Homo sapiens: one gene and its partner. The protein of the gene in region 1 purifies or fractionates together with the protein of each later gene. This does not show direct contact. Each region holds a gene or a part of one and is shown in the gene's direction. Other genes may lie near its edges.

Evidence for each region. The genes of interacting proteins can lie anywhere in the genome.
Region 2: the proteins of G6PD (region 1) and LRPAP1 fractionate together in Homo sapiens (co-fractionation; one large-scale study listed by BioGRID). This does not show direct contact.

The regions. Positions count from the first base shown.
Region 1 is NC_000023.11:154,536,847-154,540,346, reverse strand, and holds part of G6PD (glucose-6-phosphate 1-dehydrogenase), read left to right. Parts: intron 1-3,500. UniProt on the Homo sapiens protein: Catalyzes the rate-limiting step of the oxidative pentose-phosphate pathway, which represents a route for the dissimilation of carbohydrates besides glycolysis.
Region 2 is NC_000004.12:3,505,768-3,508,422, reverse strand, and holds part of LRPAP1 (alpha-2-macroglobulin receptor-associated protein precursor), read left to right. Parts: 3' UTR 1-2,655. UniProt on the Homo sapiens protein: Molecular chaperone for LDL receptor-related proteins that may regulate their ligand binding activity along the secretory pathway.

The DNA.
Region 1 (3,500 bases):
CAGGCGCGCACCACCACATCCAGCTAATTTTTTGTATTTTAGTAGAAACGGGGTCTCACCATGTTGGCCAGGATGGTCTCAATCTCCTGACCTCGTGATCCACCCACCTCAACCTCCCAAAGTGCTAGGATTACAGGCATGAGCCACCGCGCCTGGCCTGTATTTTTAGTAGAGACGGGGTTTCACCATGTTTGCCAGGCTGGTCTCGAACTCCTGACCTCAGGTGATCCACCCTCCTCAGCCTCCCAAAGTGCTGGGGTTACAGGCATGAGCCACCACGCCCAGACTATTAGTTTTTACCATGTTTTATTGAAATATATGTCATGGGCCGGCCACGGTGGCTCACGCCTGTAATGCCAGCACTTTGGGAGGCCACGGCAGGTGGATCACAAGGTCAGGAGTTTGAGGCCAGCCTGGCCAACATGGCGAAACCCCATCTCTAGTAAAAATACAAAAATTAGCCGGGCGTGGTGGCAGGTGCCTGGAGTCCCAGCTACTCAGGAGGCTGAGGCAGGAGAATGGCTTGAACCCAGGAGGTGGAGATTTCAGTGAGCCAAGATCACGCCACTGCACTCCAGCCTGGCCGACAGAGTGAGACTCCGTCTCAAAAAAAAAAAGAAATACATGTCATGAAGAACACAGATGGTGCAGGTCTAGCTTGTTGATGACTTTTCACAAACTCAGCACAGCCACAGAAACTGCTCCTAGATCAAGAAACAGAATATGCTCTGCACCCAGGAAGCCCCCTCACCTGGGGCTCTCACAGTCACTGGCCCTCAAAGGGTCATTTCTGACCCACTCCCCACCCTCCGCTCCATTGTTGGTTTTCTCGCCGTCTTTTGTTGGTGCGCAAATCTTAACTGTACAATTGGCTGTACACCCTCATCACAATAAAGGCCATCGTCATCTCCCCAGAAAGTTCCTGGGTACCCATTCCCAGCCAATCTGCCCTGCTCCAGGCAACCGCTGATCTGATTTCTGTCACAATGGGTTGCATCTCTGATGCTGAGATTTCCCAGTGTTGCTGAGTAGTATCCGTTGTATGAATGCACAGTTTGCCGGGTCACATGTTAATTCAAGTGTTTGACTTGTTTCCAGTTTGGGGCCGCTATGAACCAAGGCTGCTGTGACCATTCGTGTGCAGGTCTTTGTGTGGACTTGCACTTTCATTTCTCTTGGGGTGGAACGGCCAGGTCACAGGATAGGTGTGTGTTTCACTTGATCAGAGGGAGCACCCGCACCACCTCACAGCTCAACTTCAGCCATTTTCATTTTCTTGCCTTACTGCACTTTTCTTGTTCCTGATTGCTTAAAGGGATGATTAATATTTCAGCATTTCCTATAAGTGTGATATTTGTAGTATTTGTAAGGATGATGGTTTGGGGGTTTTTTTGTTCTTTGTTTTTTGGTGGTGGTTTTTTTTTTTGAGACGACGTCTAGCTCTGTTGCTCAGGCTACAGTGGTGTGATCTCGGCTCACTCCAGTCTCTCCCTCCTGGTTCAAGCGATTCTCCTGCCTCAGTCTCCTGAATAGCTGGGATTACAGGCATACACCACCATGTTCAGCTAAGTTTTGTATTTTTAGTAGAAATGGGGTTTCACCATGTTGGTCAGGCTGGTCTCAAACTCCTGACCTCAAGCGATTCCCCGCCTCGGCCTCCCAAAGTGCTGGGATTACAGGCTTGAGCCACCACGCCCAGCCAGAATGGTGTTTTATAGATGCCCTTTATCAAGTTAGTGAAGTTCCCTTGCATTCCCCCTCTGCTAAGAGTTTTAGCGTGAATAGGTGATTTCTGAAACACTTGATCTACATCTGTTGGGTTGAGCAAGATTGCTAGATTTAAAAAATCAAAACATAGCAGTAGGCAGAGAGTTCTTAGAGGTTTTTTTTAATCTCTTAATATGGTGAATTTCAATGATTTTTTTCTGTTAATATCAAACCAACTTTTTATTTACAGATGTATTTATTCTGTAAATAAAAAACCTACCGTTTTTAACATTGCAGGATTTGGTTTGCTGATGTTTTCTTCTTTTTTTTTAAAGAGACAGGGTCAGTGGGTCGTCGTGGCTCACGCCTGTAATCCCAACACTTTGGGAGGCTGAGGCGGGCAGATCACTTGAGCCCAGGAGTTCAAGAGCAGCCTGGACAACATGGGGAAACCCTGTCTCTACAAAAAATACAAAAAATTAGCTGGGTGTGTTGGCATGTACCTGTAGTCCCAGCTACTCCAGAGGCTGAGGTGGGAGGATTGCTTGAGCCCAGAGGCAGAGGTTGCAGTGAACTGAGATCGTGCCACTGCACTCCAGCCTAGGTGACAGAGTGAGACCATGTCTTTAAAAAAAAAAAAAAAAAAAAACCTCCTGATTTCAAGCAATCTTCCTCCCACCTTGGTCTCCCAAAGTGCTGGGGTGTGTGAGTTGTGCCCGGCCTGCTGATATTTCGTGTGGGATTTCTGCATCTGCATGTGTGTGTGAATGAGGCGTATGGGTTTTCCCATGTGCCTTTCTCATCAGGTTTCCGTACCAAGGCTCTGTAGGCCCCATAAGGTGGCTTGGGAAGTGTTCCCCTTTCTTCCTTCTGCAGGAAGAGTTTGCTTCAGGCTGGAATTCTCTTGTGCTTGCATTTTGGTAGAACCCACTGGCAACACTCTCTATGCCAGGGGGTTGTTTCTGTAGGAAGATTTGTGGCCACTGTCCCCTCTCAGGTCCATTGCTCTGTTTTTTGTTTGTTTGAGACGGAGTTTCGCTTTTGTAGCCCAGGCTGGAGTGCAGTGGCTTGATCTTGGCTCACTGCAACCTCCGCCTCCCAGGTTCAAGCGATTCTCCTGCCTCAGCCTCCTGAGTAGCTGGGATTACAGGCATGGGCCACCATGCCCAGCCAATTTTGTATTTTTAGTAGAAACGGTTTCTCCATGTTGGTCAGGCTGGTCTTGAACTCCCGAACTCAGGTAATCCATCCGCCTCGGCCTTCCAAAGTGCTGGGATTATAGGCTTGAGCCACCGCGTCCAGCTGTTTAGTTGTTTTTTTGTTTTTTGTTTTTTGAGACGGAGTTTCACTCTTGTCGCCCAGGCTGGGGTGCAATGGTGCAATCTTGGCTCACTGCAACCTCCATCTCCCGGGTTCAAGTGATTCTCCTACCTCAGCCTTCCGAGTAGCTGGGACTACAGACACCCGCCACCACGCCTGGCTAATTTTTTGTATTTTTGGTAGAGGCGGGGTTTCACCGTGTCAGCCAGGATGGTCTCGATCTCCTGACCTCTTGATCCGCCTGCCTCGGCCTCTCAAAGTGCTGGGATTACAGGAGTAAGCCACTGTGCCCGGCCTATGCCCTTTTAAAAAAGCAACCATGCCAGGGGGTTGTCTGTTTCTATTCGTCTTTTTCAAACACCAATTTCCAGCTTTGTTCATCTTTTCTTTGGGTTAGCTTTTAATTTTATTAATTTTACTTGTCATTATTTCCTATTTTCTTCCTGGTAATTTGGCTTGCAGTTCTATCTTTT
Region 2 (2,655 bases), on another chromosome or scaffold:
GTATAGGATTGGCATTATTTGTTTCATAGAGATGTGATGGGTGAGGCCATCTATGCCTGCCATTTTCTTTTTGCTTAGGTTTTTCATTAAGAACTTGATTTTTAAAAATAGACATGAGGCCTGGCATGGTGGCTCACGCTTGTAATCCCAGCACTTTGGGAGGCCAACGTGGATGGATCACCTGAGGTCAGGAGTTTGAGACCAACCTAGTCAACATGGTGAAACCCCGTCTCCATTAAAAATATAAAAATTAGCAGGGTGTGGTGGTGCATGCCTGTAATCCCAGCTACTCTGGAGGCTGAGGCAGGAGAATCACTTGAACTCAGGAGGTGGAGGTTGCAGTGAGCTGAGATCACACCACTGCACTCCAGCCTGGGCAACAGAGCGAGGCTCTGTCTCAAAAAAAAAGACATGAGGCTTTTGGATTTTCTGTTTCTTCCTTTGTCATTTTTTTAAAGATAGGTTTGTCGCAGAATTTCATCTAAGTTATCAAAACAATTTACATAAATCATTCACAGTATCCTCTGTGCAGTGATGTCCATTCTCATTCCTGCTCTGGGCCATTTGTGTTTTCTTTTCCCCCTGATCAGACTAGCTAAGAGTTTATCATTTTTACAGATATTTTCCCCAAAGAAACCTACTTTTGGGTCCATTGATTTTTTTTTTCTATTGTTTTCTTTTTCATTGACTTTTGCTCTTTTCTTATGAATTTCCTTTCTTCTACCTATTTTGTGTTCAATTTGCTGTCCTTGTTTTAGGTTCTTTTGATAGAGGCTTAGATCATTGATGAAGAATATGAAAGAATGGGATAATACAGTTAAAAACTTGGTCTACTTATGCCCATTAGAGAAAACATTCTTAAGCACGCATGGAATCTTTTAAAAATGGACGAGGTACTAGGACCCAAAGCAAATGTCAGTAATTCGCAGATGATAATGTATAAATATATGATATGTAGGTAAATAATACAAATCACATTCTTTGGCCAGAGTGCAATTGAGGAGGAAATCAGTAACAAAAAGACAATTAAATCCATTTGATTCTTTTGTTTTCGTTTTGTAGTAACTTGCACTTCCCTGGTGCCAGAGGCATGACACCTTTTTGTCTGCTCTTGGCCATTTGGGTGGCGTCTTTGGGAAGGGCCTACTTAATTCTTTTGCCTATTTAAAAAACTGGGTCTTGGAAATCTTGTCTTTTTTTTTGAGTCAGGATCTTTCTCGCACAGGCTTGGAGTGCAGTGGTGCGATCATAGCTCACTGCAACCTCAAACTCCTGGGCTCAAGCGAGCCTCCCACCTCGGTCTTCTGAGTAGCTGGGACTACAGGCATGCATCACTATGCTCTGCTAATTTAAAGAAAAGGTTTTTTTTATAGAGACTGGGTCTCGCTGTGTTGCCCAGGCTGGTCTCGGAGTCCTGGTCTCAAGTGATTCACCTGCCTCCACCTCGCGGAGTGCCAGGATTACAGGTGGCGGGAGCCGCCACACCCAGCCTGGTCTTAGCGTTATTCCCAGGTCTAGGTGTGAGTCCTTCCTCAGATATGTGTTGTGAATAATTTCCGATCCTCTGGCTTGCTATTTTACTTTCTTAATGGTTATCTTTTGGAAAGCAAAGGTTTCCAGTTTGATGAAATCTAATTTTTATTTTTTATTTTTCCGTTCTAGTGGTCTTTCTATTTTCTCATCAAATTGAGACTTTGGGGAAACTACACAGCAGCAAACCAGGATATATCCTCTTAAAAACAGCTCGAGCCGGCCGGGTGCGGTGGCTCATGCCTGGAATCCCAGCACTTTGGGAGGTGGAGGTGGGCGGATCACGTGAGGTCAGGAGTTTGAGACCAGCCTGGCCAACATGGTGAAACCCCATCTCTACTAAAAATAAAAAATTAGCCAGGCATGGTGGCAGGCACCTGTAATCCCAGCTACTTGGGAGGCTGAGGCAGGAGAATGGCTTGAACCTGGGAGGCAGAGGTTGCAGTGAGCCGAGATCGCGCCATTGCACTCCGGCCTGGGGACAAGAGCAAGACTTCGCCTCAAAAAAAAAAAAAAACCCAGCTTGAGCCAAGTGTGGGTGGCTCCCGCCTGGAATCCCAGCACTTTGGGAGGCTGAGGCGGGCAGATCACTTGAGGCCAGGAGTTTGAGACCAGCCTGGCCAACATCACAAAATCCCATCTCTACTAAAAATACAAAAATTAACCAGGAGTGGTGGCAGCATCTGCCTATAATCCCAGCTACTCGGGAGCCTAAGGCACGAGAATCACTTGAAGCTGGGAGACAGAGTTTGCAGTGAGCCAAAATCGTGCCATTGCTCTCCAGCATGGATAACAGAGCAAGACTCTGTCTCAAAAAAAAAAAGCTTGAAAATTTAAAAATATCTCAATAATTATGAGATGCAGTGATTTTTTTTTTACTTCCCTAAGCTGGGTTTCCAGGTATCTCTAGGTTCAGCTCCTCCGGGGCTGGAAGTACATGAAGGGCAGCATTGCCCACCTTGACCAGAGCAGGCTCGGAGCAGGGCAGTGGAAGAGCTGGTCCCAGCTCAGCCCAGCCTGCTGGGTCAGCATCCATCTGAAAGGTCATCTCTACCCAGGAACTTGATGGCTTCCAGCTCCACCCTAACAGAAACCTCCCCAGCATCTTGCCGAGTTGTAATCCAG